Linked DNA regions of Homo sapiens. The protein of the gene in region 4 purifies or fractionates together with the protein of the main gene of each other region. This does not show direct contact. Each region holds a gene or a part of one and is shown on either strand. Other genes may lie near its edges.

The links.
Region 1: the proteins of ASB7 (region 4) and KIF13B purify together in Homo sapiens (affinity purification with mass spectrometry; 2 studies listed by BioGRID and IntAct, with this or other methods). This does not show direct contact.
Region 2: the proteins of ASB7 (region 4) and TRIP11 purify together in Homo sapiens (affinity purification with mass spectrometry; 2 studies listed by BioGRID and IntAct, with this or other methods). This does not show direct contact.
Region 3: the proteins of ASB7 (region 4) and NPAT purify together in Homo sapiens (affinity purification with mass spectrometry; 2 studies listed by BioGRID and IntAct, with this or other methods). This does not show direct contact.
Region 5: the proteins of ASB7 (region 4) and URI1 purify together in Homo sapiens (affinity purification with mass spectrometry; 2 studies listed by BioGRID and IntAct, with this or other methods). This does not show direct contact.
Region 6: the proteins of ASB7 (region 4) and KIF13A purify together in Homo sapiens (affinity purification with mass spectrometry; 2 studies listed by BioGRID and IntAct, with this or other methods). This does not show direct contact.
Region 7: the proteins of ASB7 (region 4) and WDR75 purify together in Homo sapiens (affinity purification with mass spectrometry; 2 studies listed by BioGRID and IntAct, with this or other methods). This does not show direct contact.

What each region holds. Positions count from the first base shown.
Region 1 is NC_000008.11:29,140,594-29,144,965, forward strand, and holds part of KIF13B (kinesin-like protein KIF13B), read right to left. Parts: intron 1,711-4,372; coding exon 1,564-1,710; intron 25-1,563; coding exon 1-24. UniProt on the Homo sapiens protein: Involved in reorganization of the cortical cytoskeleton. Regulates axon formation by promoting the formation of extra axons. May be functionally important for the intracellular trafficking of MAGUKs and associated protein complexes.
Region 2 is NC_000014.9:92,012,560-92,016,059, forward strand, and holds part of TRIP11 (thyroid receptor-interacting protein 11), read right to left. Parts: intron 3,303-3,500; coding exon 3,137-3,302; intron 2,019-3,136; coding exon 1,656-2,018; intron 1-1,655.
Region 3 is NC_000011.10:108,170,162-108,174,533, reverse strand, and holds part of NPAT (protein NPAT), read left to right. Parts: intron 1-682; coding exon 683-2,335; intron 2,336-4,372. UniProt on the Homo sapiens protein: Required for progression through the G1 and S phases of the cell cycle and for S phase entry. Activates transcription of the histone H2A, histone H2B, histone H3 and histone H4 genes in conjunction with MIZF.
Region 4 is NC_000015.10:100,605,513-100,609,884, reverse strand, and holds part of ASB7 (ankyrin repeat and SOCS box protein 7), read right to left. Parts: intron 179-4,372; 5' UTR 57-178; intron 1-56. UniProt on the Homo sapiens protein: Probable substrate-recognition component of a SCF-like ECS (Elongin-Cullin-SOCS-box protein) E3 ubiquitin-protein ligase complex which mediates the ubiquitination and subsequent proteasomal degradation of target proteins.
Region 5 is NC_000019.10:29,944,956-29,949,327, reverse strand, and holds part of URI1 (unconventional prefoldin RPB5 interactor 1), read right to left. Parts: intron 1-4,372. UniProt on the Homo sapiens protein: Involved in gene transcription regulation. Acts as a transcriptional repressor in concert with the corepressor UXT to regulate androgen receptor (AR) transcription.
Region 6 is NC_000006.12:17,830,115-17,834,486, forward strand, and holds part of KIF13A (kinesin-like protein KIF13A), read right to left. Parts: intron 3,958-4,372; coding exon 3,847-3,957; intron 1,122-3,846; coding exon 987-1,121; intron 1-986. UniProt on the Homo sapiens protein: Plus end-directed microtubule-dependent motor protein involved in intracellular transport and regulating various processes such as mannose-6-phosphate receptor (M6PR) transport to the plasma membrane, endosomal sorting during melanosome biogenesis and cytokinesis.
Region 7 is NC_000002.12:189,468,372-189,472,743, reverse strand, and holds part of WDR75 (WD repeat-containing protein 75), read right to left. Parts: intron 4,270-4,372; coding exon 4,175-4,269; intron 3,401-4,174; coding exon 3,305-3,400; intron 2,669-3,304; coding exon 2,499-2,668; intron 1,926-2,498; coding exon 1,866-1,925; intron 1-1,865. UniProt on the Homo sapiens protein: Ribosome biogenesis factor. Part of the small subunit (SSU) processome, first precursor of the small eukaryotic ribosomal subunit.

The DNA.
Region 1 (4,372 bases), on a different chromosome or scaffold from region 4:
ACGTTTGAAGTATGATCGTATTACCTGTAAAGAGATTGAGAACACACAACTTCAGAAAAACCATTTACAATAAATGCATTCAACCTACTGCTTTTTGATGCACTCTAGGTTATTAAACTTAACTTTCATCATCCTAACTCTTGTATTTTTTAGAGTAAAACATTCTAAAGTTTTTGCTAAAGCACAGCGCTGTATTACTCCCATACACACTCTTCCTCATTCCCATTCACAATGGAGGTGAGCATCCTCCACCCATGACAGAGCGATCCCAGTAACAGGTCATTACTTTTATCAGCTATTCTCCTTTACATGGAAATTTTGCCACAAAATAAACAATATATGTTGACCAGAAAAAGAAGTAGAGTGTGCTAAACTACACTTCACCTTTCTTTTGGGAAAGACAGTAATTCTTATCTGCTCTGCTTATTCCTAGCAAGTCATCAGATAAAACTGCTGCTAATAAAAGGTGAGCCCTCACACCTATAATCCCAGCACTTTGGGAGGCCAAGGCAGGCGGGTCACCTGAGGTCAAGAGTTTGAGACCAGCCTGCCCAACATGGTGAAATCCCGTCTCTAATAAAAATACAAAAATTAGCCAGGTGTGGTGGTGGGCGCCTGTAATCCCAGCTACTCGGGAGGCTGAGGCAGGAAAATCACTTGAACCCAGGAGGCAGAGGAGGCAGTGAGCCAAGATCGTGCCACTGCACTCCAGCCTGGATGACAGAGCAAGACTCCATCTAAAAAAAAAAAAAGGTGAGCCCCTATGGGAGTGGCTCTTTCATTATTTATTACTGTTGTTTTATTTCTAAGTTGAAATAGGAGAGGGGTACCAAAGAGACAAACATGTTTTAAGCAAAAACATCACCTAACTATAAGAAACATTTTTATTGATAACAATCTGGAAAAATCATTTTTACAAAACAAAAGGCAAAGGAAGTAAACAACTCTATGCGGAAACAGGTCTAACGGTAATGAAAATATGTTCAGACATACATAATATGCACTTCTATTTTAAATACGTATGAGTACATGGCTGATCTAAGTAAGAAAACCTGCAAGTTAAGGACAGAGTACCAATGTATAGATTTATGGCATTTATGTTATGATCAAAACTTCTTCAAAAATGCTCCTTGGAGTGTAAATATTAAGATACCACCGATGTTCAACTTACAAAACATATATTGTAGGTTTATTATCTGCAAGGTTAAACGGGTTGAGCAATGGGAGGAGAGACAAATAATGAGGCCTGGCCTCTGTCCTAAAGAGGTTCCCAGAGAGCACAGGAGACAGACACCCGCACACCAACAGAAGTCAGAATGGAAAGTGGAGAATTCTGCTAGAAATCTAAAAGACAGAAATGAGAAGAAAAAAGAAGATACCAGAAAGAGAGATTATTAAAATTGTTAATTTGCTAAACAATTTAGGGGATTAAAATAAACCTTACTCCAGAAATAGGATTATAATTTTGGAAAAAGAACAATTTTCCCCTGAAATGGGTAGACTCATTCCAGCTTGGCTCCTTCCATAATTACCAATTAAGTGATTTTCTCTTAAATAACTTACTGGGTTATCTTCTTCACACTCTTTCCACTCCTGATAAAGGTCTCTCATATCCAACAGCCTGTTGTCCAGTTTTTCCAAAGACCAAATCTGCTTTCCTTTTCCTTTTCTTCTCACCTGGATTGCAGGCTCACTAAGAAGAGAGCCTCGCTGCAAAGAGAGTAAGAATGACCGTGAGAAACACACAGGCAGCGGGGAAGTCAAAGCTGACAATTCCACCCCCATCAGTCAAATGTCATTACACCAAAACTCAAATGGCAATCATCCTTTAATCTGTTGATTACAAAGCCTCCAAAAAGTCTTACAAGCTATAACATAATACCTTCCTACCCAAGTGCAATCAAAACCTATTTATAAACTTCACTTTAAGTATAAACTTACATTAAAAATTTTTTGGGGGGAGTTGCTGGGCATGGTGGTTCACGCCTGTAATCCCAGCACTTTGGGAGGCCAAGGCAGGTGGATAACTTGAGGTCAGGAGTTCAAGACCAGCCTGGCCAACATGGTGAAACCCCTCTCTACTAAAAATACAAAAATTAGCCGGGTGTGGTGGCACGTGCCTGTAATGCCAGCTACTTGGGAGGCTGAAGCACAAGAATTGCTTGAACCCAGGAGGCAGAGGTTGCAGTGAGCTGAAGTCTTGCCACTGCACTCCAGCCTAGGTGACAGTATGAGACTCTCAAAAATAAATAAATATATACATGTGTGTGTGTGTAAAGAGACAGCATCTCACTCTGTCACCCAGGCTGGAGTGCAGTGGCACGTCATAGCTCACTGCAGCCTCGAACTCCTGGGCTCCAGTGATACTCCTGCCTCAGCCTCCCAAGTAGTTAGGACCACAGGTGCATGCCAATACACCCAGCTAATTTTGTCTGTTTTGCATAGAGACAGGGTCTTGCTATATGGCCAAGGCTGGTTTGGAACTCCTGGCCTCAAGTGATCCCCCTGCTTCAGCCTCCCAAAGCACAGGGATTATAGGCATGAGCCACCACATTTAAATTTTGACTGTAGTTGGAAATGATTTTAAGTTTAAAACCCAAAAGACCACATTTAACAGCAAGTTGAAATAAAAGTATTTTATTCAGGCCACCATATGACCACAACGTTATCAATGGGGAGAGAGGGAAAGTTTGCTGCGGTGTATGGGGAAGAAACGTCCCTCTCAGAGGCTGAATTTTGTTTTATTGTAATGGATGGCATCTTCAGGGGGTATAAAACATGAAACACTTAAAAGAGTAAACTGAAAAGTCCCCGATTCACCCACGTGGAAGCAATTAATGATACCAGTTTCCAAATATGCATTGTTTGGGTTTCTTATTAAGATCATACAGAACTAGATGGAAGCGGTGCTCACACCACATTATTACCGTGCCAAATGCCACTGAGTTATTCACTTTAAAATAGTAATGTTTGGCCAGGTGTGGTGGCTCACGCCTGTAATCCCAGCACTTTGGGAGGCCAAGGCAGGCAGATCACAAGGTCAGGAGTTTGAGACCAGCCTGGCCAATATGGTGAAACCCCGTCTCTACTAAAAATACAAAAATTAGCCAGGCATGGTGGTGGGCGCCTGTAGTCCCAGCTATTCAGGAGGCTGAGGCAGAAGAATCGCTTGAACCCAAGAGGAGGTTGCAGTGAGCCGAGATCGCGCCACTGCACTCCAGCCTGGGCAACAAAGCAAGACTCTGTCTCAAAAAAAATAATAATAATAAAATTAAAAAAAAGTAATGTTCTATTATGCAAGTATCACACCTCCCCCCCAAAAAAAGTATGCTCTGAAGTTTTTCCAGCTTATAAGAGCAATGTGGATTTTTTTCAGAGTAGAACTTGAGCAATGTGTTTTTAATGTAGAAAAAATTTTAGAACTTTTAAAAAACCACAAAGTTAAAAAAAAAAAAGCCCCTATACATTTCCCCGAGGGAGACATATCTACTGGTTATCTAATCAATTTAGGTTTACTGGCTTAATTTTTCAAATGTTCTACTTAAAACTGAAGAGAACTTTGAAATACATTGATGTTTCATTAACATCTTGCCTACAATCATTTTCTAAGAAAAAAATTTAAATAATAAAACAAACATTTGAGAATTCTTACGGTCAAAATGCGTGTGTGTGTTTTTTTTTAATTGAGACAGAGTCTCTTTCTGTCGCCCAGGCTGGGGTGCAGTGGCCCAATCTCGGCTCACTGCAACCTCCGCCTGGGTTCAAGTGATTCTCCTGCCTCAGCCCCCCAAGCAGCTGGGATTACAGGCGCCTGCCACCACGCCTGGCTGATTTTTGTATTTTTAATAGAGATGGGGTTTCATCATATTGGCCAGGCTGGTCTCGAACTCCTGACCTCAGGTGATCCGCCCACCTTGTCCTCCCAAAGTGCTGGGATTACAGGCATGAGCCACCATGCCCGGCCATCTTACAGTCAAAATTAAAGGCCCTCCTACCTTATATTCAGCCAGCCAGTGAATAAATACAAAAATCCCATTTGTGACCTGTGTGGGTAGTGGCTTTCCTGGGGGAGAATGCTGGACCTGGGACTATAATAGCAACGGGCAATATGGTGCAGCTACCATAACTTAGCCCTCTTGCAAAACTGGAAATAAGAAAAAAATTCACCAGAGAAGAGTTCACAGAATGGACAGGACTTTAAACAACTTTTCAAATACCAAAAAATAGTCTGTTGCACGAAAGACTACAGAGTCAGCCTAACTAAGGAGAGATGCCAGGCGACATGAGTTCTTCCAGGCGTTGACATGGCTGCCCCAGTGCAGAGCCACACCTTTCAACAAAGCCCAAAAGAGGTTACGGAGAAAAGGGCTGC
Region 2 (3,500 bases), on a different chromosome or scaffold from region 4:
AAGTGGCAGTGCTAGGTACTTCTCAGTGGAGGTTAATACCTGCACTGAATCAATATACTGAGAGTCGGCTAAAAGAGCCATAGAGACACTCCACACAGAGAAAGCAGAAAATGCAAGGGTAACAGAGTGAAGAGGTAACATTGCTGCTTTAAGGAGCTATAGAAAATTCAATATGGTTCAAGTTTAGAATGTCAGGAGCATGGGAATAGTTGAAACTGAAGAGATAGGCAGGAACTAGATCATGAGAGACATTATCATGTCTAACTAAGAAATTTAAACATCATCCCGAAGTTCACAGGCAGCTATAAAGTACTAAATGCAGGGGAGTAACCTGCTTTGCATTTCTGACAAATTATTCTGGCTGCAGAATGAAAAAAATAGATTGAAGGAATCATGGAGAACAGAGAATTTTAAAAGCTAACTCTTCAGCTGGGGGCGGTGGCTCACGCCTGTAATCCCAGCACTTTGGGTGGCCAAGGTGGGCAGATCATGAGGTCAAGAGATCGAGATCATCCTGGCCAACATGGTGAAACCCTGTCTCTACTAAAAATACAAAAATTAGCTGGGCGTGGTGACACATGCTTGTAGTCCCAGCTACTTGGGAGGCTGAGGGAGGAGCATCACTTGAACCCGGGAGGTGGAGGTTGCAGTGAACCGAGATCGTGCCACTGCACTCCAGTCTGAGCTACAGAGCGAGACTCTGTCTCAAAAAAACAAACAAAAAAAAAGCTAACTCTTCAACATTTACTATTGGCTAGACACTATCCTAAAGAGCGGCAGAAAGTAACTCATATAATCCTCATTACTAAAACTACAAGGAAGATACCATTATTATCCCAACCCTATAGATGAAATAACCAATGCATAGAGATGTTAACCTGTCCAAGGTCAGCTAATTAGTGATAGAGCTCGATTCCAACCCAGTCATGTCCTTAACCACTACGCTATTCTGCTCCATTCAGAGAGCTGCCATAGTTAACATAGGCAAAAAGCAATTATGACTGGCTGAAGTAATTCTGTGTCAATGGAATAGAAAAAAGAGGAAGGACTAAGGCAGTGGGTTTGTCTTTTAAGCACATAAACTCATCTGGATCACCCAATATGATAAGTAAGTAAATGTATTAGTCTTATGTAAGTAAATTTATTTTTTAAATAAGTAAACTTATTTTTTAAAACGTAAGTACAATTACTTTAAAATTTATTTTATTTACTGGTGTTTGGCCTATTTCATTTAGTACTAATTTTCTGTAACACAGAATACTGGTACAGTAACTAAATATCATCATGAGCATAGAAAATGGTGGAAGACCTATGGCTCTAAGCACTCAGGGCTTTGCTTGGATATAGGAGATCGTTTCAAACAGGTAACAACTGACTTTGAAGAAGAAAGGCTGTATTCCCTAACTGGAGGATGTGGGCTGTGATGAGTTACAGAAAGTATAGCAATACCTAATCCTTTTTAATAGGAAATTCCTATTTGCAATCTATTAACTCTTACACTGAATCCAAACCACACAATTCTACCCAAATGACACACAGTCATTTCCAGGAATATGCCATTTCCACTAAGTATTCAGTTAGTGAAGCATCTGTCTCTAAAAACAACTACTATGCAATGAAACAGCAATCTGAAATAAGTTCCAAAGACTGTATACCAGACAGTGCTTGTTGTAGTCTGAACACTTCTTCCACTGATGCACTCTGGGCAAGAATTCTTTCCTTTTCTGTCATAGTATCACTTTGCTTCACAGCAGAAGGCTGCAATTTACTACATTCCAATTTCAAGTTTTCACATTCTTCCATTATTTGTCTCTTTTCCACATTTAGCTGTTCTTGTTCTCTCCTCAAAATATCTCTGTCATTTTCTGCAGAAGATAATTTTTTATTTATATCTTTTATTTTATCCTCAAGTTGTTCCATTTTTTTGGTAGACTCCACTTTTTCTATTTGTAGAACTTGAATAGTTTTTTGCATCTCATAGATTTTAGAGAGATCAGTTTCTATAACTCCAGAGCCACCTAGAACATAAACACAAAACAATGACATCAAATGTCAAGTACCAAGAAATAAACGGTTTGCTATATACAACTAAGAGATATAAGACAGTTCAGAATTTGGAAAGCTTAAAAGTTAAATTACTATAATAAACTAAGTGTTTTAAAATAAATAAGTTGGGGGAAAATATTTGAATCAACTACATAAAGGCCTATGTATCTTAGTTTGAAAGAAAGTGATAATATCTCTAATCATTTATTACCAAAGTATCATCACCAAACAATGCAAAGAAATCTATAAATTATAACTATTTACCACAAAGGTAAAAAGGACATTTCCATTTTCACAGAATTTTTTTTTTTTTTTTGAGATGGAGTCTCACTCTGTTGCCCAGGCTGGAGGGCAGTGGTGCCATCTCGGCTCACTGCAACCTCTGCCTCCTGGGCTCAAGTGATCCTCCCACCTCAGCCTCCTGAGTAGCTGGGACCACAGGCGAGCACCACCACGTCCAGCTAATTTTTGTATTTTTAGTAGAGACGGGATTTCGCCATGTTGGCCAGGCTGGTCTCAAACTCCTGGCCTCAAGTGATCCACACACCTTGGCCTCCCAAAATGCTGGGGTTATAGCCATAAGCCACCACTCCCGGCCACAGAATCTTAAAAGCAGAGGTGCCACTGCAAATTTCTGGCAGATAAGCAGAACTAGTCATTTACACTTCCTTATAACTTAGGGCAAGTTTACAGCACTGTCCTGGTCTTAGAATGCTAGGTCTATCATTTAGTTATGTCATCTAATATGTTAAATTAATAAAACTATCAACTGGCCAGGTGCAGTGGCTCATGCCTGTAATCCTAGCACTTTGGGAGGCCGAGGTGGGTGGACCACCCGAGATCACGAGTTTGGGACCAGCCTGGCCAATATGGCGAAACCCTATTGCTACTAAAAATACAAAAATTAGCTGGGCATGGTGGCAGGCACCTGTAATCCAGCTACTTGGGAGGCTGATGCAGGAGAATCGCTTGAACCCGGGGGGCGGAGGTTGCAGTGAGCCGAGATCGCGCCAGTGCACTCCAGCCTGGGCAACAGATGGAGACTCCATCTCAAAAAAAATAATAATAATAAAGAAATAAAACTAATAACCTTGTTGTAACAGATTTTCAAGTTCTTCAATTCGTTCTTCATAGTCACTTAATTCTTCTCGATGTCGTCGACTTATTTCTGTCAATTTCTGTTGGTGTGCATTCTGCAGTACTGACATTTCATGTTGATGGTCATCAATTTCCTGACTTCGGTTCTGTTTTAGTTCCTTAAAAAATAAAAACAAAGTTATTCACATTTATAATCAATAAATTTATGTAAGCTATATATTTAACTGTTGTCCAAAAGTGTGCATTATTAAAAAGAATTCTCAGAACATGTTAAGGCTGAAAAGAATTTAAACACAGACCCAAAATTAGGACTATTCTGAACAACTTCACCCTTTCCTTTCTTAGGTCTCAAAAAC
Region 3 (4,372 bases), on a different chromosome or scaffold from region 4:
TTTTTTCTCATGGTACCTTTTGTTCCTATGCTGTTACAGTTTTTACCATGCTTTCTTATGACTTTCTGTTCTATAGTTGGTTCCTTGACTAACCTCTCCAAGATTAGAGATTGGATCATTCATCTTTGTATCCCAGTAACCAAGTATGGTTGGTCTTCAGTAAATATGTGTTTAATGTTAAACAGTACACAATGAGATCAAGTGTCAATCATGCAAAATGTACTTGGCCCCATCTCACCTTTAAGAATATGTCAGATAAGTTGGGTGTGGTGGCTCATGCCTGTGATCCCAGCACTTTGGGAGGCCGAGACAGTAGATAAATTAAAGTCAGAAGAAATGTTAGAAGTTGAAAAGTTAGTGTTTCAAAATAAACTTCATTTTTGGAGCCAGTATGTTTTTTACCTATTGAAATATTAAACCTCTTTACTTTTTCCTTCTTTGTATCATCTGTCTTCCAAGCTTGGAAAACAAATTGACACTTGTGTAAAAAGTCATCAGTAACTAGAAAGTACCTGTAAATTTTTTGATACTCAGTAAATGGGAAACACAGCGTATCAGACTTCCACTTACTGGTATGCAAAGATGAGTTATTTTCTTGGCAAAATAAGTTTTATGGCAAAAATGACTACCTCAGAAGCTGAACATATTTACCATATCTGTCTACCTGCCTGATACTTTGCAGATGGTCAGTCTGGTCAGCCCGCTTTTTGTACATCCTATCAGAATGATGACCCATTAAATGCTTTGAAGAATAGCAACAACCATGATGTGCTTAGACAAGAAGACCAGGAAAATTTTTCCCAAATAAGTACCAGCATACAGAAAAAGGCCTTTAAAACAGCTGTACCCACTGAACAGAAGTGTGACATTGACATTACCTTTGAGTCCGTGCCTAATTTGAATGACTTTAACCAAAGAGGGAATTCTAATGCTGAATGTAATCCACATTGTGCTGAATTATACACCAATCAGATGTCCACTGAAACTGAAATGGCTATAGGGATTGAAAAGAACTCTTTGTCTTCAAATGTACCGAGTGAATCTCAGTTACAGCCTGATCAGCCTGATATACCAATAACTTCATTTGTTTCACTTGGTTGTGAAGCTAACAATGAAAACTTAATTCTCTCTGGGAAGAGTTCTCAACTTTTATCCCAAGATACTTCATTAACTGGAAAGCCATCTAAAAAAAGTCAATTTTGTGAAAATTCTAATGATACAGTAAAACTTAAAATTAATTTTCATGGTTCCAAGTCATCAGATTCTAGTGAAGTTCACAAGAGTAAAATAGAAATTAATGTGTTAGAACCAGTTATGTCACAGCTATCAAATTGCCAAGATAATTCTTGTCTTCAAAGTGAAATACTACCTGTGTCTGTTGAAAGTTCACATTTAAATGTATCTGGACAAGTAGAAATTCATCTTGGAGATTCGCTGTCTTCTACTAAACAACCATCTAATGATTCAGCATCTGTTGAGTTAAATCATACAGAAAATGAAGCTCAGGCATCCAAGTCTGAGAATTCACAGGAGCCTTCATCTTCTGTAAAAGAAGAGAATACTATTTTTCTCTCTTTAGGTGGAAATGCTAACTGTGAGAAAGTTGCACTGACGCCTCCAGAAGGCACTCCTGTAGAAAACAGTCACTCTCTTCCTCCAGAATCTGTGTGTTCTTCAGTGGGAGATTCTCACCCTGAGTCCCAAAATACTGATGATAAACCTTCTAGCAACAACTCAGCAGAGATAGATGCATCAAATATCGTCTCTCTCAAAGTTATCATTAGTGATGATCCATTTGTTTCCTCAGATACTGAACTTACCAGTGCTGTTTCTAGTATTAATGGAGAAAACCTGCCAACTATAATCTTGTCTTCTCCTACTAAATCACCTACTAAAAATGCAGAACTAGTTAAATGCCTATCTTCAGAAGAAACTGTAGGTGCTGTTGTATATGCCGAAGTAGGGGATTCAGCCTCAATGGAACAGAGTCTTTTAACATTCAAATCTGAAGACTCTGCAGTAAACAATACTCAGAATGAAGATGGCATTGCTTTTTCAGCTAATGTTACACCATGTGTTTCCAAGGATGGAGGATATATACAGTTGATGCCAGCCACAAGCACAGCTTTTGGCAATTCAAATAACATTCTGATAGCTACCTGTGTGACTGATCCAACAGCGTTAGGAACATCTGTAAGTCAGTCTAATGTAGTGGTGTTGCCTGGAAATTCTGCACCTATGACTGCTCAACCTCTACCACCTCAGTTACAGACACCACCAAGGTCAAACAGTGTATTTGCTGTCAACCAAGCTGTGTCACCAAACTTTTCACAAGGTAACTTTAATAACATAATTGAAATTTGTTTCTCTGGGTTGGGATCTAATTTCTTTTGTATGTGATGTTATTGACTGCGAAGTAATAACTAATGAGTAGATGGTATGAGAAAAGATTCTGAAATTTGTGATTACGCTGCTTCTTTATGCTAGCTAATTCAAACCTTTTTTATTTTTCTTAATCTGCTAGTAAGCTATGGGCTTTAGTGGTTTTTCTTTTTTCTTTTCACAAATACTTCTCAATCTATGTGCTAGTAAGTTACAATAAACAGAAAAGACAGACTAATTCATCACATAGTTGTATAAAACCCAATGTTGTGGGGGAGTTTTTAAAAATAGCTCTTATAGTCATGGTCTTCAGGGAATTCATCATCTTTTTGGAGAAATTTTCAAGAAAAACTTGAATTTCAGCCGGTTATGGTGGCTCACGCCTGTAATCCCAGCACTTTGGGAGGCCGAGGTGGGCCGATCGATCACCTGAGGTCAGGAGTTTGAGACCAGCCTCGAGAACATGGTGAAACCTCATTTCTACTAAAAATACAAAAAAATGAGCCAGGCATGGTGGCAGGTGCCTGTAATTACAGCTACTTGGGAGGCTGAGGCAGGAGAATCTCGTGAACCCAGGAGACAGAGGTTTCAGTGAGCCAAGATCATGCCATTGCACTTCAGCCTGGGCAACAAGAGCGAGACTCTGTCTCAAAAAAAAAAAAAAACTTGAATTTCTTCCTTTATAAAATCCTTTCTAATTGATCTCTGTCTTTAAAATCCTTTGTTTATGGCTGGGCTCAGTGGCTCATGACTGTAATCCCAGCACTTTGGGAGGCCGAGGCGGGCAGATCACCCGAGGTCAGGAGTTCAAGACCAGCCTGGCCAACATGGTGAAACCCCGTATCTACTAAAAATACAAAAATTGGCATGGTGGTGGGCACCTGTAATCCCAGCTGCTTGGGAGGCTGAGACAGAAGAATCTAAAGCTGGGAGGCAGAGGTTGCAGTGAGCCAAGATCGCACCACTGCACTTCAGCCTGGGTGACAGAGTAAGACTCTGTCTCCAAAAAAAAAAAAAAAAAAAAAAATCCTTTTTTCATAGGGGCTCTTGTGGCATTTATTGCGTGCTGTGTTATATGTAGTTAGTGATTGATATGCCTATCATATTGATAATTTTTTATTGTATGTTCCTCAGAGATAGTGCTCATGGCACATTTATTTACATTTCCTTATGTGTTGGTTCCCAAGCTTCCCTCTTTTCCCTTTTTGTTACATTATAGACATACAATAAAATTTCATTAAATATCAACAATTAGTATTAAACCTAATGGGTCTGTTTTACGTGCTGTTACAAATTACATAAAGGAGAGGTCAGAATTAATAGAGAATGTGGGGCTTGAGCTAAAGCTTAAAGAATGAAGGTAGGATTTGGAGTTAAAGCAAGGAAGTTTTTATAACTTATAAAATCTGTAAGTTATAAAGAGAAGCAGCACCAGCATAGACAGAGAGACCGTAGTAGGTTGCATGAAAATGAGGGGATCAACCTGACAGTAGTGTATTAGGCAAAAGTTTGTTTATGGACAGGACTAAATTACAGTAGCCACAAACTATGTTGTTGACTTCTGAGGACCATGTAGACATTGTAATTTTCCCTCCATAGTTTTGACCAGTTACGTGCTTACCTTACCCCCTTTTGATCAATACCATTGAGATATGTAATAGGTTGGGGTTACAAGTGTAGTCCTGGGTATAAATATTCAGTTGGGGTTGTAATTTTCTGGTGTAAGGTTCAGACTTGAAACATTCACCACTCATTTTCTAACTAGTTTCATTATTTCTAGAGGAATCCAGATATGATTGTAATATGATGTCTTGGCTGTAGAGTCTTATGCTTGATCAGCATGGTTCACTGACTGAATAACATTAAGACCACCTTAATATTTGGATTGACTTTTTCTTAATTTGTTAGCCTTGCTGTTTTTCCTAAAACTGTTTCAGTTTCGTTTTTTTTGTTTTGTTTTGTTTTGTTTTTGGAGAGTGGATCGTAAGGA
Region 4 (4,372 bases):
TAAGTGAGCTTTCCCCCGGAACAACACAGATGACCAATGACCCTGAGGCAACTTGCCTTATGGAAGAGTGTCCCTTCTCCTGATGTACGGATTGCCTAGTAACCATTGTGCACGTACAGCATCGTGGGGAGGGGCTTCAAAGTACGTCCAGGCTACAGAGCAAAAAAGCCTTCTTAACCTAGAAACAAATAAAAATAACAATCATAGGAAAATTCCTTAAAATAATAATCATAGCTGTCTGCATAGTCTACCTTTTGATGAATGTAAACTTCAGTGCTTTACAATAAATCTATAGAGCAGAGAAAGAACTCAGATCAACTCTTACAGAAAATAATCTTGTTACATATGTTCATCTCCAATAAATACTATTTAGTTTCAGGCTTTTCCCCCCAAAATGCAGCTATTTGAGAAAGAGCAAATAAAAAAAATAATAAATCACATATTTGGAATTTGGATGCAAGCATAGATTCTTCATTTTCCTCTATTGAGAATACAGTTTCAGACTTGCTTTATCTGAATTACTTTTTAACCGACACCATAAGTCACCTGCACTTTCTAAACAGGACTTAAATGAGAATACGTGTGCATGAAATATAATAGGTGGCCTGGGTTAAAATAAAATCTATGACAACTAAAAGGAGACTGTGTCTTTAAATGCATTTTCTTCATGTGCCCTAAAGGCATCAAGTCAATCACTTTGAAATTGTTATTCCTTTATGCATACACCGAACTAGATAAAACATTAACAACAGCCTTGCCAGGTTCCCCATGTGAATTCTGAATAAACTCTCTCCACAACTAAAAGAAAAGGGATCTTTCTTCGTGTCAATTAAATTCCAGCTCTGTTAATTCCAACAAAGTTAAGGACACAAAGTGACTTCCACATAAAACTCTAGGAATTACATATTGGGAGAACTACTACCTCATCCCCTGACGGTGGGTGAGCATCACTTAAACCTTCAGACAAGAAAAGGTCGGGCCACTTAGCAACCTGGCCCGCAGCAGTTGTATGTCCTGCTGGCTGCACACCAGAATTTTCAACCAATCCAAATTGGTATAGTCCACTTCTCTCTTTTCCTCTATTCTCATCTACTTTTCCTTGACAAACCTCTTCAAGGAAGGTAAAGAGTTTGCCAACTTGCCCTTGGAAATAAAATTTGTTTTAAAATTCTATTATTATTTCTAAATAAATGAGGCCGACGAGATCAGAACAACTCCTACAAAGCAAGCTGTGAAACATGCAAAGCGATCCTTATACAAATGGCCGATTCTAAGACTGGAACATCACACGGTGCCAGAAAGCAAGGAGGTGCTCAAAGAAAGACACCACGGTGGGGGAGGTCAAAGGGACACAGGAGCCAACTGAAAGATCCCTCAATAGCCAAAGAGGGAATAACTGCAGCAATACTTAAAACAGTACCAGATGACAAAGTACAAAGTGGATATCAAGAGTTCACATTGATACAAATAACTGATTCGATAAATAAAGGGGGAGAAACACATCTGTTGTTCAGAATTCCAAATAATTTGTATAGGTAGTCTCTCCTCAAGGTGGTGACAAACATGTTAATATAAGATGTTAGTAGGAGAAACTGAGTATCGAGCATGTAGGAACTCTGCACAGCCTCAGTAATTGTTCTGTAAATCCAAAGCTTTCCTACAATAAAGTTTATTTTAAAATGCAAATCAGTGTCCCCAGTGATGAGCCTCACACATTGCCACAAATGAATATGCCACCACTTTTCACGAGCTACATCTACATTTCAAGAGTGAACATCACTGGACATCTCACTTCCAAGTGTGTCCTCAGCACCCCTTACTTCCCATAAGAAGTAAACATGACCCAACATAGCTTCAAGCCTGAAGAATCCTTGTGGTTGTTGCTGGCTTCCAACTATCCACCGCCACTTCCATGGAGGCAGCTGGAAGTGTCAGGGAAGACGGCATGAGAGCTGAGCAGAATAGGAAATGGTGTTAATTTATTAACAATATCAAGAAAAGGCCTGGTGGTAAAAGATGAAGTGGCCAAACTATTTCTCCCAACAAGAAAGATTCACAGGTGGTAGCAACTTGTGCTAATTCCATATGAGCTCCTTCAGTCAAACAAACAAATGTCTACAGAATGCTTGACACTTAACGTGGCACAGTGATAGGGTTTGGCCACAGGTAGCACCTCCAGGTGGTATTCCAATAGAGTTCTGCATACTTAAAATGAATTTTTTAAAATCCCAGACATTTTAAGATTATTTTTCTCTTTTCTGAAAATACCAAGTGCTATAAACAATAACCACAGGTTTAAACCAAAAAAGTACTCCCTGCATGTACTAGTGCATCAACGTTTACCAGAAAAAAACATACACACACGTCATGCACACATGATCCCTGTCAGCTACACTGCTTTGAATTACGACAGAAAATAATTTATTACAAAAGACCCCCAAATAGTCAAAAGCATCAACAAGTAATTTCCTCCTGGTGTTACTTTATGAGAGCTGCGCCTGACAGAGTCGAGTCACGTGTATAAATGAAGAAAAGACTATGGAGCTGAAAAGCAAACACAATATCTAGTGGTAAATATGTCTATTAAAAAACAACAGAGGAAGTCCAGAGATGAGAATGGAAGAAAGCCTATTTTCCCTCAGGGAGTTTATTAAAAAACTGATAGCTCATGGAAGTCACCTATAAAAAGAAAAGGAATATAGCAAAGGAAGTAATTTTCTTTTTTTTTTTTTTGAGACGGAGGCTCGCTCTATTGCCAGGCTGGAGTGCAGTGGTGCGATCTCGGCTCACTGCAACCTCTGCCTTCAGGGTTCAAGCGATTCTCCTGCCTCAGCCTCCTAAGTAGCTGGGACTACAGGAGCGTGCCACCACACCCGGCTAATTCATGTATTTTTAGTAGAGACGAGGTTTCACCATGTTAGTCAGGATGATCTCGATCTCTTGACCTTGTGATCCGCCCGCCTCGGCCTCCCAAAGTGCTAGGATTACAGGTGTGAGCCACCGCGCCCGGCCAGGAGGTAATTTTGTAAGTTATGTATGTTTAGTTATGTTTTTGTGGACTCAGGAGCTACTGATACTCTGAGGGTATGATCTTCAGAAATTTTATTCTAGCTTTCACAGTCACAAGGAAAAAAAAAGCAAACAAACAAGGAAGACTTTCTTTTCCACTTGGGGTCAAAAGAAAAGAATCTAGGCTTCCAAGCTTTAATACTATTGACCATATTAAAAACTACTAATTTAGAAATTCAAGTACATTACCATCTAATTTCCATATAGATGCCAAGTGAAGTTCATTTAGTTAAACCCAAAACTTCTTGCTTCACATAGTTAAGTCTATATGATAGAACAGCGTGAAGAATAAAATAAACATAAAACAAAATATGCTTAAGACCTGTCCGAAGTTACAAAACCTTCACCAAATTTGACCATATTTCCCAAATCTCCTTTGGCATAAATGATTAGACATTAATGACTTTTTGCATATTATTATCATTAAAAGTCCACACATTTCTGATTAAGTGATGCAAACTGAACTGTGCTTTCTGATGTCACATAAACTTAGCAACAAGATAATGGCTTATTACTCAAAGAAAGAAATAAGCATTTCTTTGCAAAGTAAACAAAAATACATGCTGGTAAGAAAATAAATGCAATCAGCAACTCCGACGACATTGGGTCTGAGAAAAAAAAAACAATCCTTCAATGGTTCACATTCACAAGATCTAAGAGGGAAGATGGATGGAAAAACACTACACGGCCGTACCAAAACGGAGAACATGGCTGAGATGCCTGTTCACAAGCTCTACTGATATGATCAGGAGCCTGGAACCCAAAATAAGGTATAAGTGTTATTTTAGTGTCACTCAACAAAGTATAGCATAGTGGTTATGATCCAAAACAAATAAAGGTATTAGTATTTCCTCCAAATTACTGGGCCTCCATATAACATAAGGATTTATTACCATGCACAACTTATCCATGACCCACATAAATTCCAGCAGAGAAACCAATAATTTTCATGAAGTGTGGATGAAGCAACAGAAGAAATTTTGGACTTATCCAGACCCAACTCAAAGCTTAAATCACAAGTATTATAATGATGAGGTCCTGTCAATATTATCTTATTAACCTAGGTCTGCCAACACCATCTTTGTAGCCTCATGTGTCAATTCCTAGAAAGTTTGCAAGAAAGGAGACAATCATCCTACGTAGGGAGGGCATTCAGGGGATTATGATGTGGAAGGCTGAAAGTCAGGTAACAGATATGCCCATATAAATCATATCTGGCTTTAGACTTTTTAGGGATGGTGTGTATCTCTATGTCACCAAAGTTAAACGTGAACAAATTAAAGAGATACTGTATGTGTCATAG
Region 5 (4,372 bases), on a different chromosome or scaffold from region 4:
CTCCGCCCCGCCGCCCCGTCTGGGATGTGGGGAGCGCCTCTGCCCGGCCACGACCCCGTCTGGGAGATGAGGAGCGTCTCTGCCCGGCCGCCCCGTCTGAAAAGTGAGGAGCCCCTCCGCCCGGCAGCCGCCCCATCTGGGAAGTCAGGAGCCCCCTCTGCCCCACAGCCGCCCCATCTGGGAGGTGAGGAGCCCCTCCGCCCGGCAGCTGCCCCGTCTGGGAAGTGAGGAGCGTCTCCGCCCGGCAGAAGCCCCGTCCGGGAGGCGGGGGGCAGCCCCCGCCCGGCCAGCTGCCCCGTCCGGGAGGGAGGCGGGGGGCAGCCCCCGCCTGGCCAGCCGCCCCGTCCGGGAGGTGGGGGGCGCCTCCGCCCGGCCGCGGTCCCGTCTGGGAGGTGGGGGGTGCCTCTGCCCGGCCGCCCCTTCTGGGAAGTGAGGACTCCCTCTGCCTGGCCGCCACCCCGTGTGGCAGGTGTACCCAACAGCTCACTGAGAACAGGCCATGATGACGATGGCGGTTTTGTCGAATAGAAAAGGGGGAAATGTGGGGAAAAGATAAAGGAATCGGATTGTTGCTGTCTGTGTGGAAAGAAGTAGACATAGGAGACTACATTTTGTTCTGTACTAAGAAAAATTCTTCTGCCTTGGGATGCTGTTAATCTATAACCTTACCCCCAGCCCCGTGCTCTCTGAAACATGTGCTGTGTCCACTCAGGGTTAAATGGATTAAGGGTGGTGCAAGATGTGCTTTGTTAAACAGATGCTTGAAGGCAAAAAAAAGTAACTTCAACATTACTTATTGAAGTTACAGAACTTACAGAACAAATATACTCTTTTCAATAAATTACCATAATTAAATCAATTTAGAAAAAGCATTTCTAAAATTCAACACCCACTCATAAAAACTCATAGCAAACTTGGAATATAAGGAAATTTCCTTAATCTGATAAAAGCAAATACAAAAATTACTCACAGTAAATACCACACTTAATGGTAAATGTTTAAAAGTTGACCCCTGATGCCCACTACCAGCACTTGAACTGGCCAGTATCAAAAGCAAGAAAAAGAAAGAAACAGCATACGGACTGGAAAGGAGAAAATAAAGGCAATCTTGAGGAACCACAACTAAAACTACACCACCATGTACCAGGTACCAAGATAACACAAAGTCATAATGATTTAGACAGTGTAGGTTTGCTGCAAGAACAGACAAGCCAACAGAACAGTCAAGAAACTGATCTACTTACACAGTCACCTGATTTATGACAAAGATGACAATGCGGTGGAGACATGACACTCTTTCCAATAAATGCTGATGGGACAACTAGGTATCCATACAGTAAAAATGAAACCTGACCTCAATCTCCCCCATATACAAAGCCAATTCCAGGTAGAATGTAGATTCTCAATGTGAAAAGCAAAGCAGTAAAGCTTCTATTAGACAATATAAGAGGATATCTTCAGAAAAGTAGTAAGAAAGACCTCTTAAAAATAAGACAAAAAACACTAACCATGAAGGAAACAATTGTTAAAATTAAAAATGTCTGTTGATCAAAGGACAGACACCACTGTAAGTGCTCCAAGTCAAGCCACAGACCAGGGAAGAAACTTACAATATATAATTGGAAAGGCAGTCATTACTATGAATCAATTAGAATATAACTAACATCCCAATAGAAAGTAGTTAACAGATGAGCAGGTATTTCACAAAAACAAAACACAAAAATCCAAGTAGCCAATAAACATCTGAAAAGGTCATCAACCTCATTACTCATCACTAGATTGGCTAGCAAATATGAAAAGACACATGGTGGTAAAGACTGAAGCAGGGAGAACTTCTGTCCACTGCTAGCAAGCGGTAAACTGGTATAACCACCTTAGAAAAAGCATTCTAAGTGGAACTGAAGACACAAACACGCCATGAGAAAGTTCCAGGCAAAAACTAGAAACAAACTGTTCATCTGAAAAATAAACAGTATTAATGAAAATTCTAAGATCGGATCTGTAAACATCTATCACAATGCGTGGCACACAGAGTTGCTCCCTATAATGTAATTCCATCCGTCCATTTCTTCACATATGCATGACAAATGGATATAATTTAAGATCAGCCTCAAAACACATTCCAATCGTTTCCCATCTCACAAATATGAAAACCAAAACTCTTACAATGATCTGGTACTGCTCTCATACTGGCTAGAAAGCTCTTCTCTAAAATATCCTCCATATATCCACACAGCTCACTCCCCACTTATTTCAAGTTTCTGCTCAAATGGAACCTAACAGAGAAGCCCTCTCTGATGGCTTACAGAAGACACCATCCCTCCACTCACATCCCTCATTCTCTACACGCCTCTTACCTTCCTGTTTTTCTACTTAGCCTTACCTACCAAACACCCAAGGTAAGGCTATGTAACTGCATGCCTTCACCCCTAGAGTGTAACCATGAAAGAAAGAACTTGCTGTATTTTGTTCATTACTGCACACTCAGCAGAACATGCCTGGCATGTAGTAGATACTCATTAAATATTTGTTACATAAATTCTATGGCATGGATTCTAGGCTTGGAAAGAATAGCTGTTATATGGCCTACGTGGCTGACAGTTCTTTAAACTATGTGCAGTTTAGTTTATCACAAGAAATATGAAAACCCTCCATTAAGTTAAATTAGCTGTTCTGCTTTATAAAAAATTTAAAATATTTACTCTTAATGCATTTAATTCCCCAAGGATCTATATCAGGAAGTATAAGCTATTCCAAAATTCCAAGTGAGAACTACATGAGGCACTCAATTATAAATATATTATCCTAATGAATTTTCTAATCTTACTATTATCCTGCAAATAAGCCTATAAAAACGATACTGGATCCACCACTTTTTAAAATATTACAATAAAATCTCAGTAGTTCTGCTAATAAAAGCTAATAGTATCTAGAGATAAAATACAGGTATCTCAGAAACATCACCTTAGCCAAGAAACAAAAATTTCAACATAATGCAATTCTTAGAATCAGATTTAACAAGATCTTAGTACAAGGAAACCTCCCTGAACAGCCCAAGACACTCCACAACAGTCCTAGACCACACATTTTATGGTATAGGTCACAGTCTAGACAGGTTAAGCTTCCATTTTTCCAACAAATATTTTACTGCTGTTAGTAAAAACAGATTTAGTTAAAGACAAAAAAAGGATGATCTGAATTTCTCTCCTCTCCCTGTATCTTATAACAAATGAAGATTAAATAAAACCTTTGGGGGGGGGAAGGAAATCAACTGGAAGATGGTTGTTTGAATAAATTATATATATCAGCTCTGAAGTAACCAAGAAATAAACCTGCCTAACCGGCATTCAAACCAGCCAAGAGCCATTTTTCAGGCTCAGAAAGTGTTTTGCAATTAAAGTAACATTCCAATTTTCGTTAAAATTAAAATAAGTTTTATCAATAGCTTTTTTTGGAAAAAAAAAAATCCCATCCAATTTTACAAACTTTTAGGTAAAATAATAAAATTGTGTACTTTTAAAACAATGGTGTTTTCCTATGTAAAATGTGTAAATATTTATATAAACGTAACTGGAACCACCCTATACATACTGTCCTAGTTTTCAATGCCTACGTAACAGCTCCTGATTTATTTAACCAATCCCCCAATGTCAGACTTTTAGTTTTTCTCTTTATAAACAAAGCTGCAGGGAATGTTTCTTACATGTTTTATTGCTAGATCAAAATAGAAACAAACCGAAGTTCTAACTAAAATAAATTGTTTTGGAAATGTTTCACCATTGACTGTAAGTGAAAGCAATGTTAAAATATTTGATCCTAACCGCTGACTACAGATATTGTCACTTAGAGGTTGTGGCTTGTTCATGCCCCTTGTCTGTCCTCTTCCTCAGGTTGCCAATTTTTTGTCCTTTTTATTCCATGTTCCAGAGAACATACAAGAAAAAAAGAGAGAGAGAGCGTAAAACTTGTTATACTCCTTAGCTGAATTTGGAAAAAAAGAAAGAGCAAAACTAATGAGCAACATTTAAGCCACATTACCTACCAGCCCCTCTCAATCAAGGCTCCCAGAGAAGATTATGCCCTAAGCCTAAGGCACCCACTGTGTGTAAGGAACTCATTTCTCTCTCTGCATCTACAGCCAACTAGGTAGGTACCCTCTCAGGGAAAACTGAGAACAGTCATTCAAATCATTTTCTGCAGAGTTTAACTCTGTCTCACAAAACCCATGTAGGGAAAGGCCAAGAGCTTAAAAGCATGTTTGATTCATCTTTCATAAAGGAATACTAAGTGCCACATATGAAGCTACTATGACATTTTCCCCTTCTACACTCAGGATGTCACTACGCTTCTACTTTACTAGAACTCACTGTAC
Region 6 (4,372 bases), on a different chromosome or scaffold from region 4:
TCAATCAGATATCTTATTTCTCACTTTGCAGAGTAAGCAAGCAGTTCTAAAAGTGTGATCTGAGAACCCCCGGGGTCTCTGAGAACCTTTCAGGAGGCCTATGAAGTCAAAACTACTTCAATAGAAACATGAACATGTTGTTTGCCTTTGCTCTCTCATTTTATCATGTGTGTGTGTATTGGTGGAATTTTCCAGAGTCTATGAGACATGTAATGATGTTATAGCCCTGAGGGCTAAGGGTTGTACGTTTATGTTTGTAGTTTAAAATGTTCTCAGTCTTAGGGTCCAATACAGTAAACACGGATATAACCCAGACACATGAAAGTTCTTTGGAGTCCTTGATACTTTTTTTAAGAGTGTAAATGGGTTCTGAAGTCAGAAAATTTGAGAAATGCTACAGTAAGCTATCCAACGTGGCATGTCCTGCGACCACAGTGGCAACAGGGCGGCCCCATCCCACCTCTACACCTGAAGGGTGATTATGGGACCAAAAGTTATTTCCTGAGGATGTGGGTTTACAAGGGATAGACCTAGAAGAACATTGTTGTCTATTTAATCTAGGACGAGGGTCTCCTTTAGGCTTGTGTTGATCTTGAGATCTCCTTGGAATTACTCAGAAGCATAACTAAGAACCTCCAGAGCTTCTCAGGAGCTTTGTGGAAGAACACAGATATTCCCAGAATCCTCACCATCTCACACCTAGAGCCTTCTCATAAAGCTAGGCATCACCTCGACACCTACTGTTGCCCACTTATGCCACTCTGAAGCCTGGACTCACAGGAGATCAGCCCCAACTGCACAGCCCCAGATGATACAAAATAGCTGTTTTTCCTTCTCAGTGGTGATCGGAGGGCACTATCCATCTTAGTTTTACTGAGGGCTAAGCTGGATACAAAAAGCAACATCACAGAGACAGGCACCCAGATTCAACTACGAACTGTATAGGAATGAATCTTGATTGCATATGTATTTATATGTTCTCCTACCTTTAAATAATAAACCAGAAGTTCGTTAAGAGCAGGGTCTGCATTCAGATTGACTAAGTAGCATTTGTCATCCCCCACCTTGATACCGGACATCTCCAGGGAAATCCCCATGCTTTCAAGTTGTCGTTGTCTTTCCTGTGCACAAAAACAGACAAAAGAAGGAAACTCTGTTTGTTGTTCTATTCACAAGATGTATCCACGGAAAGAGTAAGTCACTGTTTCTGGGGACAATGCCAATGGGATTACACATGCTACTCTGCTCAACCACATTAACAGAGAGTCTACAGTGCATGACATCTTGTGGCAGGCGTGATAGGGGCACCAAGGATGAACCAGACACCATTTTGGCTCTTAAGGAGCTTAGAATCTAGTAGAGGGAACAAGACCACATAACTAGAGCACAAAAGAGGAGAGTGTTGTGCTATTGAAGGGTACAAAATGCCAGGGGCTTCCCAGGAGAGACATCATGATGGGTTAAGAGACCAAGAAAGGCTGCAGAAAGAGGATATATTTGAGATAGTTCTTGAAGCATAAGAATAATTTCAACAGAAATATAAAGATAGGGTGTTCTTGGGGCATGGCATACGGAAGCACACTAAAGAAAGGTTCTGGACATACTAGATGATTTCAGGGGCCAAGAACCCCTGGCAAATATCAGAAAGCAGTGAGAGTTAAGGCTGGAAGAGAAGGTTGGGTCTCTACTGCGGAAGGCCTTGTATTCACTCATTCATTCATTCATTCAAGATATATTTATTAGAGTCTACAATGTAGTAGGTATTGATCTCGGGCTGGGAATACAGCACTGAACCCAATGAAGTCCCGTCTTTCATGAAAAGTTATATTCTGGTGGGAGGAGACAGGCCATAAGAAAACAGTTAAGTCAATATGGTACATAGAATTTCCAATGGTGTTAAGTACTATGGAGAAACATAAAGCAATGTTAAGCGGGACAGTGAGTGAGGTGTAGGGGTATGTGTGGGTGTGAACGATATCTATAAGAAACACATCAGCAGAAGGCTGGACTGGGTTCCAGTGACTGCTGTTAAGCTACGTGATTGGGATGGTCCAATATTTCCAAATGATCAATGAGATTAAAAATGTTCGTGAAATATATAATGTAGAGAAATTCATAATGCACATAACCCCGAGAATTAGTCCTTCCTTTATATTTTAACTTAAGTAAAAGTTAAAATATAAACATACAGCATTTCCTAACAAGCCCAAAGAATCAAATACATTGAAAAATTATGATATGCTATACGTTACAAATTCTCTGTCAATTAGGTAGCCTCTTGGGAGGCTAAGGCGGGTGGATCACCTGAGGTCAGGAGTTTGAGACCAGCCTGGCCAACATGGTGAATCCCTGACTCTACCAAAAGATACAAAAATTGGCCAGTTGTGGTGGCACACACCTATAGTCCTAGCTATTTGGGAGGCTGAGGCAGGAGAATAGCTTGAACTGGGGAGGCGGAGGTTGCAGTGAGCCAAGATTGCGCCACTGCATTCCAGCCTGGGTGACAAAGCAAGACTCCATCTCAATAAAAAATTAAATAAATAAAAATAAAATAAAATAAAATAAAAATCAGGTAGCCTCATGCTTTGCCAGGTGATCTAAAAATCACAAAACAAGGCTGGGCACAGTGGCTCACACTTGTAATCCTAGCACTTTGGGAGGCTAAGGTGGGTGGATTGCCTGAGCTCAGGAGTTTGAGATCAGCTGGGGCAACACGGTGAAACCCCATCTCTACTAAAGTACAAAAATAATTAGCCAGGAGTGGTGGCGCAAGCCTCTAGTCCCAGCTGCTCGGGAGGCTGAGGCAGAAGAATCGCTTGTACCCAGGAGGCGGAGGTTGCAGTGAGCCGAGATTGCGCCACTGCACTCCAGCCTGGGCGACAGAGAGAGACTCTGTCTGCAAAAAAAAAAAAAAAAAAAAAAAAAAAAATCACAAGGCAGACTTTCGTTTAAATGTGAAGAGCAGGAAATATGAATGACATTTTCTGTAACCATGCTTGTTCAAATTTAGTGCTATCTAACACGTCTAGCAAATATACAGGCCAAACTGTACATTGATAAAAAGACCTGACGTCAATGTCTAAAAGTGATCTTTGCTGGGCGAGGCACAGTGGCTCATGCCTGTAACCCCAGCACTCTGGGAAGCTGAGGCAGAAGAATCACTTGAGCTCAGAGTTTGAGACCAGCCCGGGCAACAAAATAAGACCACAGCTCTACACAAAATAGATAAAATTAGCTGGGCATGGTAGCACATGCCTGTGGTCCCAGCTACTTGGGGGGACTGAGGGAGGAGAATCACTTGAGCCCAGGATGTTGAGGCTGCAAGAGAGCTGTGATTGAGCTGCTGTACTCCAGCCTGGGTGACAGAGGGAGACCTTGTCTTCAAAAAAAAAAAAAAAAAAAAAAGTGATCTTTGCAATCTCTGGTTCAGCAGAAAAGGGCCCTTAAAAGACTTTCTGAGGCTGGGTGCAGTGGCTCATGCCTGTAATCCCAGCACTTTGGGAGGCTGCGGCTGGCAGATCACCTGAGGTCAGGAGTTTGAGACCAGCCTGGCCAACATGGTGAAACCCCATCTCTACTAAAAATATAAAAATTAGCCAGGCATGGTAGTAGGCACCTGTAATCCCAGCTACTCGGGAGGCTACGGCATGCGAACTGCTTGAGCCCGGGAGGTGGAGGTTGCAGTGAGTCGAGATCACGCCACTGCACCCCAGCCTGGGCGACAGAGTGAGACTCCGTCTCAAAAAAAAAAAAAAAAAAGACTTTCTGAAGATGACAGCAAACTACACAGAAAAGACAATAAGTGAAAAAGAATCCCAATATTTTAGGGCTAAATTATCAAGCTACCTGTGCTATCTCTTCTGTTTTTCTCAGCTTCTCTTCCCAAGTCACTGTTAGTTCTTTTATCAGCTTTTCAGACTCTTCGAGCTTCTCCTTCAGTTCAGGGGCCTTCATGGCCTTTAAAATGAAATCAGAGATATCTGATGTTCAAAATTTTTCCACCATCATATACAAGACAATCAGTTACTGTCCCTCTTAAGCAGTTATCAATAGTCTGTTGGAAAAAATTAAGTTATATGCTGTTAGGGTGGGTTTTTAACCTTTATTAATCAAACGAATGTAAGAGAACATGGCTGTTCCCTGAAAAAGAAATACCAGTGTCCTGAATGAAAATGAAACAAATCATTAGTCATTTTATCCATTATACTTAAATTTCACATTTAAAGCCCTAAAAGATGCTAACGTTCAACTTTGAAATAGATAAGCAGGACAAAAGGTTACTTAAGCAGACTTCTTTTTCAATAAGACGGAGGTTAACACTCATCATCAATAAATGAATTCCAGTTAAATTAATCTGCTAGAAAAGGTAAAG
Region 7 (4,372 bases), on a different chromosome or scaffold from region 4:
TCAATAAATTAGCTCAGATAGTGGAAGCCAAGGGATAAGTTCTGCACAGGCAGAGAACTTCCAAGTGGCTTTTTAACCCACTTTTAAATCCAAAGACAGCCAAGAATCATCAGACTCTGATGAAAACCTCTAGATGAAAGGCAGCAACCAAGACAAACCAAAAACAAAAAAAAATGTAATGGAAACAGACCATGAAAAAGAAAAAAAGATTTGATGATAAAGATGAGGAAATCTTCCAGAAAACAAACAAAAAATAGGCAAAACAATAAGAATAATAGAGAACCATTCTAGAAAGTCCAGCACTAAATAATAGGAGTTCTAGAAAAAGAATAGAGAAAGAAGTAATTAGCTCCTCCTTAGTTCTCTACTCAAAACTCTCCAAGGGGCCCTATATGTAACTCAGAGAAAAAGTCAGAATCTTTTCAATAAGGCCTACGTAGACTTCCCTGTTTAAAATTACAAGCTGCATCCCATGCATGCCATCTTTTCGTCTATTCTCTACCCCACCACAATTCTTACCACCTTCTCTACTCCATATTTTACTTAATGCATGTTGTTTACTGTCTCTATCTTCTGGTGGACTGTGAATACCGCAAGTTTAGAGACTTGACTACTTTTCTCACTACTGTATCCCAACTGTCTACAATGGTCCCTGGCGTACAGTAAATAATTAACAAAAAATTATTGAATTAATCCAATGAGTTTTAAAGGAAAATAAACAAGCCAAGTTACAGACAAAGGAACAAGAACAAGAATGGTATTGGTCTTCTAGTAATAATGGAAATTATAAAATAATAGGACAATAATGTCAAAGTTCTGCGAGAATGATTTTCAACCTACAACTCTATAATAATCAAGTGAAAGAGAATAAAAACATTTCCAAACATGCAAGGTCTTAAATTGACCTCCAATGCACTAAAAGAATGCTTCACCAAAACAGGGGAGTGACCAAAGAAAGAGAAAAACCACACCACTAATAGAGTAGAGGTCAAACAAATCCCCAGAATGATGGTGAATATAGATCCTAGGATGACTACTGTGTAGCAGGTTTCCAGAGCAATCAGTCCAGACTGAAGACAGTCAGAAGGCTCTTGGAAATAATCCTTTATGACTTGAAAGAATACCTAATGTATCTGAAAACACTGAGAGAATACTTACACAACTTGAGCAGAATTTGGGGTTGAATTACATGAGAATAGAAAACTAAGCAAATGAAAAAACAAGGCAATCATTAACTCCACAGAAAATAAAAACTTGGTCACAAAAGGAAAAACAATCTGCCTATTACTACATGGCTTGGCTATGAATTGTGTTAACACAGCTATGACAATGACTACTGAACTAACCAATTTAACATTTACCCATATGGGGAAAATTGGGGGACAAGTAGGGAAAGTGTGTGTTGTGTATATGCAGGGAGTGCTGATGTGAAAAACAGCTAAAAATTCAGCGTCAATAGATCAGAGTTAACAGATAATACCTAAATCTGAAAAACCTATAATTAGAAATATAAACATTTCTTAGAGATTTCTTAGAGATTCAGAGTTAAATAAAAACTTCAGCTAAAAGATTTGAGAGTGATTGTCTTTGTGGGTAATGGTAGTGGTGTTGGAGAAGTTTTTTCTGAAGAGCCTTGTAAAAATATTTGACTCTTTAAATCAGAATTATATATTACTGATATTATAAATTAAAATAATTTTAAAAGAGCACTAAAACTTTCAAGAGACACATATCAGTTTATAAGTATATGGCTTTTAATTCTATTTTAGGGCCAAGTGAAATATTTTTTTCATAGTTGACTTCTAAAAGGTAATTGTATCCTTTTAGGGAGGCAATACATCCTGCTATGAATGGCTAAAACATACCTGTTTGCTTGTTGGTGTGAGTTTTTCTTCTGGAGACTTTGTACTGAATGTCAATAAACTCTGAAAAGAGAGAATTAATGATGCAAAAGACAAACTGTAGAGTGCAAATCTAAACAAGGTGTTACAGGGTGTTAAAAAATGAGAAGGTCAAATTTTTCACTTTGATATATATATTTGACAACAGAAAAGGAATAAAAGATTTAAACCTATTTAATAACCACGATGAGAGTTACAAGATTATGTCTGAGAGATACTTAAGAAATGGTAATGAATAAAAAATATAACTGACAGACAAAACTCAAGCCACCATTTTAAAAATTGCAAATCAAACACTGAAAAAAAAAAGAAAAAGAAAAAAGAATCATGCAATTTAAAGTATTTTAGTTGTCTTCTGCTTTTTTGCTGTCACAGAGTTAATACAAGCAATACCTAAGGAACCTCAAAAGTGTGGGGTAAAACGGTAATACATTTACATTAATAATGCTGCTGTACTGAGCATATTAGACAATTTTTTGGGAAATAATCCTTTAATGAAGCTGTTTCACCTAGAAACAAACTCACACCAATAGTCATGGGCTATTAGTCTAAAATTCCATGTACAAAGTGATCGCCTTTTTTGAGGGAGGCAGTTACCTGTGATTTTGTTAGGAAGTAAAACTGGGATCTATTTAGCCACTGGTAAGCTTCTGAGGTGAAGGATTCAGGGACATCTCGTGGAACAAACACTCCCCACTGGACTTTCTCTCTGGAGATACCCTTTTGAATATACAATGGCCTTGGCTCACTAGGTTTAAATACAAACACTAGAGGGAAAAAACAAAGAAACAATAACATTTTGCCTGAAAAGGTTAGTTCTAGCCTCAGACTGGCAGATCACACTAATCCTGGGACTCACCCCATTGAGTAACTGGCCCAAGTCATGACTGTTTTAGGCTTTGATTCAAGAGGTATCTACTGTGTTCCTACTATGGGCCAGGCAGGTTAGGAATGAGGGCTATGAGGATGAAAAACAGAAAGAAGAATTCGTGCTCCAGAGGCCAGGGCCCACTGCAGAAGACAGAAACCAAAATATTATTACAGTAGTATTTTGTCTGTAAGTACTAGAAATGAGATATGTAGAAACTGCTTCAAGAACATAGAGGATGACCAATTAAAGCTTCTCAGGGGCAGTTGGAAATATGTCAAACTGGTGAAATCTCTTGAATTTTAAAGATTGAGTACGAATTGGCTTGTGGAAAAATAAGAAACATATTGGAGCTCTCCTAGAACTAAGTATGGACGCACACAATGACAAAGTGTTGGGGCAAAGAAGGGCCGTGCCTCAAGCAAAATGGCTTCCAATTAACATCTGATGTGAAGGCAAGTTTGGCTCAAATTATATTAAGAAGAAAACTTAGGTCATAGATGTTCTCTTACTACAAAGTGTGGTTTGTACTTACAGTCTGAACCCACTGAAGACTGAGAGATTGCAGCAATATTCTCTGAATTAGGATCGGGTTCCATAACTCTAACATTTAATTTTGCATTCCACTCCACTGAGGGGAAAAACAAAGGTGATTCACTTCTAAGGAAAGATTTACCAAAAGCTTTAAAAAACTTCTCTTATTCTTAGGAAGAGGAATCTTATGCTTCCAACTAACACACATGGAGACACACTGAAATGATTTGTAGAATGCTGCACTAAAGTGAGAGGCCGAAAGAAAAACATACTGGAACTGTAGTGCTCCTTGTACAAACTATGAAAAGATTATTATTTCATTGAAATTTATGTCTAGTGCTTTTCTGATGCTGCTAAATGTGTACAGTATGTTAACCAGAGTTAACTGTAAAGAATACTGAAAAAAGTTACCATACACATTCATTTATAAGCAGCTACTATGCCTTCCAAACATACACTCAAATGGGTAAAATGCCACTAAGTTCACATTTGTTAGGACTGTGATAGACTACATTTGAATTTAAGCTGTCAGGGATAATGTAGATTAGTAAGTATTAAAAATGAGCAGAAAACATTATTCAAATTGTTACGAGGATGGGGAATATGGAGGGCATCAGAAAGTCACACACACTGAAAACAGTAGAAAAAGGTAAGGATAATGGAAGCTGACGTACCAACAATTAAGCAGTTAATAAATAATGTCTATTACAGGCCCAGTATTCCAAATTTTGGTGGCATCATATGTCACGTAAAAAACTGACTATTCCAAGTACAGACCTGATGATATGATCCCTAAGTCCTAAAATGCCAAAGTTTAATGTCAACTCCTTATGCGCTTTGCCAGATCACTTTAGAGTAAAAAATATCTTACATGCACAGCTCAGCAGATTCCAACAGCAAAGAATGCCATTTTCAGTAGCACCAAGTAGATACTTTGAACACGTCAATCTCCCAAAGCAAAGGTGCCTAGATTAAAACCACAAGGAAGTTAGCAACAGTCAGTTCTAGCAAATTCAGTTACAAAGAACTGCAGGCTTCCAGCGGCTGTTCTATGTAATGCAGATTTTTA